Regions from separate parts of the Homo sapiens genome. Here regions 2 and 3 are each linked to region 1. Evidence: fine-mapped expression QTL. A gene starts in region 1. Each other region holds a variant in brackets. All regions are shown on one strand. Distances are from middle to middle.

Region 1 (2,768 bases):
ATGGCATTTGGATTTTATCTCTGTGATAAATAATCAATCTCATAATCCAATCAATCACCTAATCTAAGCAACCAGATCATATACACTAATATATCGTTCCAAATATGTATCAAGTTTTTCTTGAGTACTTTCCATGTGCCAGGCAGGAAGACTTGACTTCATAATCTCATCTAAGCATCACAACAACCTTGTGAAATATGTATATTATGTCCAGAAACTGAGGCTCAGGGATGTTAGGTAATCCACAGTGGCTGAGCTGTGAGTTTAACCTAGGTGCAATTCCAAACACAGCACTCCTAACGTCTATGTAATAAGGTTTCAGTTGTATAGTGTGTGTTTTCTTTCCCTAGTTAGATTAGGACTAGGAGGGCAAGGATTTTATTTTATGTTTCCTTCATAGTCTCTTCATTGCTGTACCAGCTACTACACATAGTGCTCAATAAATGCTCAATAAATACTTAATGAATGCCAAATGGAGCTGCAGCTGGTTGAAAATACCAATTCTTTCAGAACGGATTTAGATTTTAGATTCATGGGTAATATATTCATCATGGATCATTAAAAGAAGCAAGGATATTTGAGTCCATCCTTAGTCCCCAAGATGTCTTGGTGGAGCAGGGACCACACTTTCACAACCTTTGGTGCTTTCTTATGAGTAAGAATTGATTGGGTCAGATGGATTATGGATCTGACCCAATGTGATCATTCGTAGATTCTTCGGGTCCTTTTCTGTTTCCTAGTATCTCCTAGCCTAAACGGACCTACCCTGCTGCTGATGCCTCTCCCTGTTTGTCTTTCCTTGTGGCCACATCCCTCTTCTTGTTCATTTGAATAAGATATGGTGCCTACGGGAGGCAGGCATTGAAGTCCAACAGGCCAGGTTTTATCAAAGGTGGTCAACAATAATTATGGTGTGGTGTCAAACAAGTCATGCCTCTGAGCCTCAGCTTACACATCAATAAAATGGAACTAAACAAGCTTCCTCCTCCAAGATGTTGGTATTGTCAGAATTTCACATTTAATAGTTTAATATTTATAGGCAGCTGGAGACACATTATAGAGAGATTGGGGCCTATAAATCAATTTAGACTGGATTAATTATCTGTATACAGGTGGCTTGAAATCATCTTCCATTCTCCTGCTGCCTGCATTAGAAACACCCACAGCTGAGCGTGAGAGCTGAAGGGTCAGGGTCAGATGTGTAGACAAGAAAGCTAAGGAAGAAAGACTGAGAGTGAGGTGGAGACTCCCCTGCTGTGTTCCGCTTCACTCCTGACACACACACACACACACACACACACACACACACACACACGCACCCAACTCCCCCCCATCACACCCCACCTACCTTCCCCATTCCTGCCCAGAATCACTGGTCCTAACAGGGCACAGAGGTGGAAAATCTCATGGGTTCTTTGGCCAGGAAGCCTCTTATTGTCCTGTTCTGACGACCAGCGAGACAAATGGGAAAAGACTGCCCTCCCCCTTTTCTCGCTCCCCGGCACGCCAGGCTTGCTAGTGAGGATGGGACGCAGTCTCAGGCCCCACGCAATCCTTTTGCAAAGCCAAGAAGTGTGTGTGTTGTGTGTGTGTGTGTGTGTGTGTGTGTGTGTGTGTGTGTGTATTGTGTGTAGCGAGGAGGATTGGGGGTGGGATCCCATGACGTTACCGGCTCCGCCTCCTGGTGTATATAAGGGGCGCTTGGCGCGCAACGACCCCAAGCCGCAGCTTTGAAGCCTGAGCGGCCGAACTCGGCAGCTCCAACCCAACTCGGCTTAACTCCGCCTCACCGAGCCCAGTCCAAGACTCTGTGCTCCCTAGGTTTGCAACAGCTCTCTGGTAAGCGTTGGGGACCCACACGTGTGTCGGAGGGGGGACGGCGAGGGTCCGGGCGTACCTAGGATTCTCTGGCAACCATGGCATGCAGTTGCATCAACGGGGCCGTGACCTGTTGCTGGCGAGACCCCCGCCCCGGGAGTTAGGGCTCCCGTCTCCACCCCAGCTCCAAACCATTTCTAGATGGGGGCAGGAAAATCTGGGACCTGAGTCGGGGGGCATCGGGTGGAACCCTTCCTCTCTGCTGAGAGGAGAGTGCGAGCAATCTCGGGCTGCCCTGGGGCCCCTCTGGGGGCGCATCTCCAAATCTTTAGATGTCGAAGCCCCGCCTCGCTGTTGATGCTTGCAGGTCAGCCTAGCAGGGCTTGGGAGGAAGTAGGGGAACATTTGCTTACTCCCCTGGGCGACAGCTGCGCTAGTTGAGCAGTGTGGGCTTGGTGAGGAGGGATGGAATTGAGTCGGTGCTCACTTTTAATCTGCAGCGAGGTTGGTCCCCTCTCCCTCTGGGGGGTCTGGGGGCTGTGTCTGTTTGAAGCCCCGGGGGAAGCCCCTGGGTGGAGCTCTGTTTAATTCCCAAATAGCCACAGGCCAAGGAACTGACACATTAGGTTTCAAGATTCCTGGGTTGAGATTAGGATAAACCCTATCAGTTTCTGGCAAGAGAAAGAGACCTAATATTGATTGAGCACTTACTAGGCGCCAGCCACTCTACTTCAGGGGGCTTTCACGTGCCATTTCTGAAATTAGCCCTTCCAAAAACCTTGTAAGGTATTGTAATTCCTACTTGTTTATGAAGAAACTGAGGTTAGAGGTAAAGTGACTTGCCTTTGTCCCTTCCATATCCCCGTCCTCATTTCCCAATAGCTCCTTTGCTTGGTGGAGGGGGTCTTGTAATTCGCTTTCAGAGTTTAGGGATAATGAGCCCTGTCGAG
Region 2 (2,768 bases), 460 kb after region 1:
AAATGGATGGAGGTGAAAGTAAAATAAGCCCATTAAGAAGATACTTGTTAGTATGGAGTAAGTATATGAATTGCCAAATATCAGAACATTTCTAGGAATCACAAACTTGTCTTTATAAAATAGTTATGGGGCCAGATGCAGTGGCTCACACTTGTAATCATAACATTTTGGGAGGCCAAGGTGTGAGGATTGCTTGAGGCCAGGATTTTGAGGCCAACCTGCACAACATATTGAGACCCTGTCTTTGCAAAAAAAATAAGAGAATTAGTCAGGCGTGGTGGTGTACGCCTGTAGTCCCAACTACTCAGGAGGCTGAAGCAGGAGGATCGCTTGAGCCCAGGGGTTCAAGGCTACAGGGAGCTATGATCACACCACTGCACTCCAGCCTGGGTGTCAGAGTAACACCTTGTCTGAAAATAATAATAATGAAGCCTATTACTTGGGTTAGTTTCTAATGATGGGTCCATTGTTTAGAGGTGTTGTCTAACACCTCTAAAACTAGATAATTTCTAAGATCCCTTCTAATTATGACATCATTATGATTTTATGACCAAATCAATGAGGTCCATACGGAATCAAAGTTAGAACTAGTCTGATTTAATTTTTAAATATAATTTAGAGAGGGAAATCTTCAAATCTGCAAATAATTCTAAACTCTTTGGGTAAAAACAATACCAAATCAATAAACATAAATTACCAAAAATATTTCTCAAGGCTATGTGAGAGGGCAGAAATATGGCAAATAGGCTTCAATGGGCAAATATTGCTTGAGGAAAAATAATTTCAGTTCTACTTTTAGAATAATTTTGGAACTATGACTAACCCAGAAAGCTGGGTGTCCTTATTCTGGTCCCTGCACTGTCACTGTGTATGCTTCCTCGGCCATACACACACATAGCCAGGGTTCTGGATACCATCCTGAAGGATACTGAGAAGAAAACAGAAAACAAAACATGCCGGATCAGCATGCCATAAAAATTTCCAGTTTATCCCTATTGACTGGATGTTTTTGTCCCCCAAAGAGCTTAGTGAGGATGCAAGAAGAGCTACTGAGTGAAAATGCTATACTAGGCCAGGTGCCGCGTGGCTCACTCCTGTAATCCCAGCACTTTGGGAGGCCGAAGCGGGCGGATCACCGGAGGTCAG[G/A]AGTTTGAGACCAGTCTGGCCAACATGGTGAAAACCCATCTCTACTAGAAATACAAAAATTAGTTGGGCATGGTGGCGGGCACCTGTAATCCCAGCTACTCAGGAGGCTGAAGCACAAGAATCGCTTGAACTCAGGAGGCAGAGGTTGCAGTGAGCCGAGATCGCGCCGCTGCACTCCAGCCTGGGCGACAGAGTGAGACTCCATCTCATAAACAAAAATGAAACAAACAAACAAAAAAAAATCTACCTGGTCTAAAATGACTGGAATGAAAAATGCCTTGATCTCACATCAAACTAAGAAAAAGTATTCACAGGATCTTGCCTTCTCACCTATTCCGGATCACCCAGCAGCTCAGGGTAAAAGCCTCAATAGGGCCTTCTCTATATCTTAAAGCAATTTCATATAGCATATTCAAATGAAAGATTAACAGAGTCTTTGGCTCTTGCAACCCATAAGCCAAAGTATACATAAAGACCACCAAAACAAAATACCTCATCCAAAAAACATGAGAATAAAGACAGATTTGTACCTTTTCCCTGTTCTCCAGGTGGTGGGTACACTTGATAAGAAGAATCTTTTCCACTTAACAGAGATACTATAACACAGTAACTAAAACACACACATTTTATGATGAAGTTTGACAACTTGAGTTAATGTAACCAATTTCTATGTTTTACCAGGTCAATGGAGAGTCTCGATTCAAATGTTCTTCACAGTTGTCACACCCACAGGATCACAAACTCAACTGAATCTCCTTTAGGTCAAGTTTCTGTGGAAGAAACTCAGAAAATGGGACCTGGAGAAATACTCTTCTCATCTAAGTTGTCAAAACACCTATGGTCATTTTTCAGTAACTGATAATCCAAAAGTAAAATATTAAAGTCCAAATCGTGTGTGTGTGTGTATAAAAGAATTTTATTTATAATAAAGGTGGTACTTCAAAAATGCAGAGAAATGATGGATTATCTAACAAATGGTACTGAGGTAATTCATTAACATTTGGAAGAAATTAAGTTAGTACCCTACTTTACATCACAAATCAACTCCAGGCAAGTTAAGGTTTTAAACACAAAAACAGGCCAGGCACAGTGGCTCTTGGCTGTAATCCCAGTGCTTTGAGATGCCAAGGCAGGAAAATCACTTGAGGCCAGGAATTTGAGAGAGCAGCCTGGGCAACACAGTGAGACCCCATCTCTACAAAAAAACCACAAAAATTAGCCATGCTTGGTAGCATGTGCCTGTGGTCCTTAGCTACTTGGGAAGCTGAGGCAGGAGGATCACATGAGCCTAGGAGTTTAAGGTTCCAGTGATCTATGATCATGCCACTGCACTCCAGCCTGGGTGACAAAGCCAGACCCTGTCTCTAAAAAAATAACAAATACAAAAACAAAAATATTAAATAACTAGAATAAAACTCGGACAGTATTTATTTGCCCTCGGGTAGGCAAGGCCCTTCTAAACCTCTGGGCACAGGCAAAATATACAAAACATTAATAGATTTGACCACATAAAAACATATGAAACATCTGTACATCAAGATAAAATTTAAAAAACAGGCTGGGCGCAGTGCCTCACACCTGTAATCCCAGCACTTTGGGAGGCTGAAGTGGACAGATCACTT
Region 3 (2,768 bases), 140 kb after region 1:
GTCATTTTTTTTTCTTTTGTTAGCTTTGAGGTTAGTTTGTTTTTGTTTTTCTAATTCCTCTAGTTGTGATGTTACATTGTTAATTTTAGATCTTTCTAACTTCTTGATACAGGCATTTCATGCTATAAACTTTCCTCTTAACACTGCTTTTGCTGCATCCCAGATATATATTTGTGTGTGTATATATATATATATATATATATATATATATATATATATATATTTTTTTTTTTTTTTTTTTTTTTTTTTTTGAGACAGAGCCTTGCCCTGTAGCTCAGGCTGGAGTGCAGTGGGACCATCTTGGCTCACTGCAACCTCTGCCTCCTGGGTTAAAGCGATTCTCCTGCCTCAGCCTCCTGCATAGCTGGAACTACAGGCGTGTACCATGCCTGGCTAATTTTTTTTTTTTTTTTGAGACGGAGTTTTGCTCTTGTTGCCCGTGCTGGAGTGCAATGGCGCAATCTCGGCTCACCACAACCTCTGCCTCCTGGGTTCAAGTGATTCTCCTGCCTCAGCCTCTCGAGTAGCTGGAATTACAGGCATGTGCCACCATGCCCGGCTAATTTTGCATTTTTGGTAGAGACGGAGTTTCTTCATGTTGGTCAGGCTGGTCTTCAACTCCTGACCTCAAGTGATCCACCCGCCTCGGCCTCCCAAAGTGCTGGGATTACAGGCGTGAGCCACTGCATGGCCCATCCCAGAGATTTTGGCATGTCGTGTATCTTAATTAATTTCAAAGTATTTTTTATTTCTGCCTTAATTTTATTGTTTACCTGAAATCACTCAGTAACAAGTTGTGCTTAATTTCCAGGTAATTGTGTGGTTTTAAGGGATCTTCTTTGGTATTCATTTCTATTTTTATTGCACTGTGGTCTGAGTGTATGCTTGGTATGATTTCAGTTTGTTTGAATTCATTGAGATGTGCTTTATGCCCGAACATGTGGTCAATCTTAGAGTATGTTCTGCATGCAGATGAGAAGAATGTGTGTTCCATGGTTGCTGAGTGACATATTTTGTAGAAATCTATTAGGTCCAATTGTTCAAGTGTTGAATTTAAGTGCAGAATTTCCTCATAAGTTTTCTGCCTTGATGATCTGTCTAACGCTGTCAGTGGGTTCTTGAAGTTCCCCTTATTATTGTGTGACTGAGGCTATTCATAGGTCTAGAAGTACTTGTTTTATGAATCAGCGTTCTCTAATGTTGGGTGTATATATATTTAGGATAATTAAGTCTTCTTGTTGAATTGAATCCTTTATTGTTATGTAATGTCCTTTGTCCTTTTTGACTATTGTTGGTTTAAAGTCTGTTTTATCTGATATAAGAATAGTGACCCCTGCTTTTTTTTCTGTTTTTATGATAGATCTTTCTCCATCACTTTACTTTGAGCCTGTAGGTGTCATTACATGTGAGATGCATCTCTTAAAGATAGCAGATGATGGTTTCCAGCTTCATCCATGTCCCTACAAAGGAC[A/T]TGAACTCATCATTTTTATGGCTGCATAGTATTCCATGGTGTATATGTGCCACGGTATACATATGTAACAAACCTGCATGTTGTGCACATGTACCCTAAAACTTAAAGTATAATAATAAAAAAAAGACAGCAAATGATTGGGTCTTGTTTTTTATCCAACTTGCCATTCTTGAAACTTCTGACCTGTGTGCTCAAACGATGCAGGATTGGGACTGGGCCTGCAGCTTTGTACTCTGGCCCCTCATAGTTGAACACTAGCTGTCCTAGCGGGGCTGAAGTGCACCCAAGCCACTGGCAAAGCACTCAGGCAGGGCAGTGGAGGCTATGCTGTGTGCTTGCTCTTGTAGGAGAATCCAGGCAGGAGCCTTGGGAGGTGTTGCCGACAGAGGGGCATGCAGATCAGATGCACTCCAGTACTGCAGGAAAGCCATCTCTGCTCTATCCTCTCTCTTGGCCCAGCAGTCATCAGGGTCGTGTTTTACTGCAGCTGCCTTGCATGCAGAACCTTCTGGGCTCTGCGCAGGCTTGAGCTCTGCCTCTGTCTACTCTCCTGGCATTTTACCCTGCCAATTTAAATGTCTATGGAGTTTGTGGAATCTCTTGTAGCTAGGATCCCAGAGGTCCGTGGTGGGAGTGTGTTGACTCATAATTCCTTCATTTACCCCTTCCTTAGGACCTGTTGAAGGCTGAGAGCTGGTCCTGGTGCTTGGTGACTCCATGCGGAGTTCCCAGTTTCCTGTGCCTCTTCCAAGTCAGTGTCTGTGTTGCCTCTCTGTTGACTTTCAGTGTTTTCTCTCAAAAGATGTGTTTGAAGTGTGATGGTTTACTTGATATTTGGTTTCTCTTGGTGAGAGAGGTGCTTCCCAGCTGTGTCTTGAACCATCTTGTTCCTTATCCAAGTTTGTACTTTTTAATCATCATCTCTACATTCTCTCCACAGCTCTGTCTCTGTAACCACCATTCTACTCTGTGCTTGTACGAGTTCAGTTGTTTTAGATTCCAGGTACAATTTAAAACATGTGGTATTTGACTCTCCGTGCTGGACTTATTTCACTTAGCATAATATCTTCCTGGTTCATCCATGTTGTCACAAATCACAGTTTTTCCATTCTTTTAAAGGCTGAATAGTATTCCATTGTGTATATAATGCTACATTTTTTAATCCATTTATTTGTTGAGGGACACTTAGGTGGATTGTGTAACTTGGCTATTGTGAGTAGCGTTGCAGTGAACCCAGAAGTGTAGACGTCTCTTTGACAAACTGACTTCAAATATTTGGGGTAAATACCCAAAAGCT

Evidence for each region. PIP is the estimated chance that this variant, and not a neighbour inherited with it, causes the effect.
Region 2: its variant is fine-mapped to the expression of SLC7A3 in whole blood (TOPMed, PIP above 0.99).
Region 3: its variant is fine-mapped to the expression of SLC7A3 in whole blood (TOPMed, PIP 0.93).

What each region holds. Positions count from the first base shown.
Region 1 is chrX:70,930,048-70,932,815 of GRCh38, reverse strand. SLC7A3 (solute carrier family 7 member 3) reads left to right here and starts at 1,720. Exons shown (of 12, transcript NM_032803.6): 1 at 1,720-1,839. RefSeq lists an enhancer at 1,976-2,477.
Region 2 is chrX:70,466,674-70,469,441 of GRCh38, reverse strand. All of the region lies in intron 9 of DLG3 (discs large MAGUK scaffold protein 3), which reads right to left. Among named protein-coding and RNA genes, the nearest start is that of DLG3-AS1, 12 kb to the right of the region's middle. The variant G/A (reference allele first, on the strand shown) is at 1,147.
Region 3 is chrX:70,789,771-70,792,538 of GRCh38, reverse strand. All of the region lies in intron 9 of TEX11 (testis expressed 11), which reads left to right. Among named protein-coding and RNA genes, the nearest start is that of SNORD3E, 55 kb to the left of the region's middle. The variant A/T (reference allele first, on the strand shown) is at 1,472.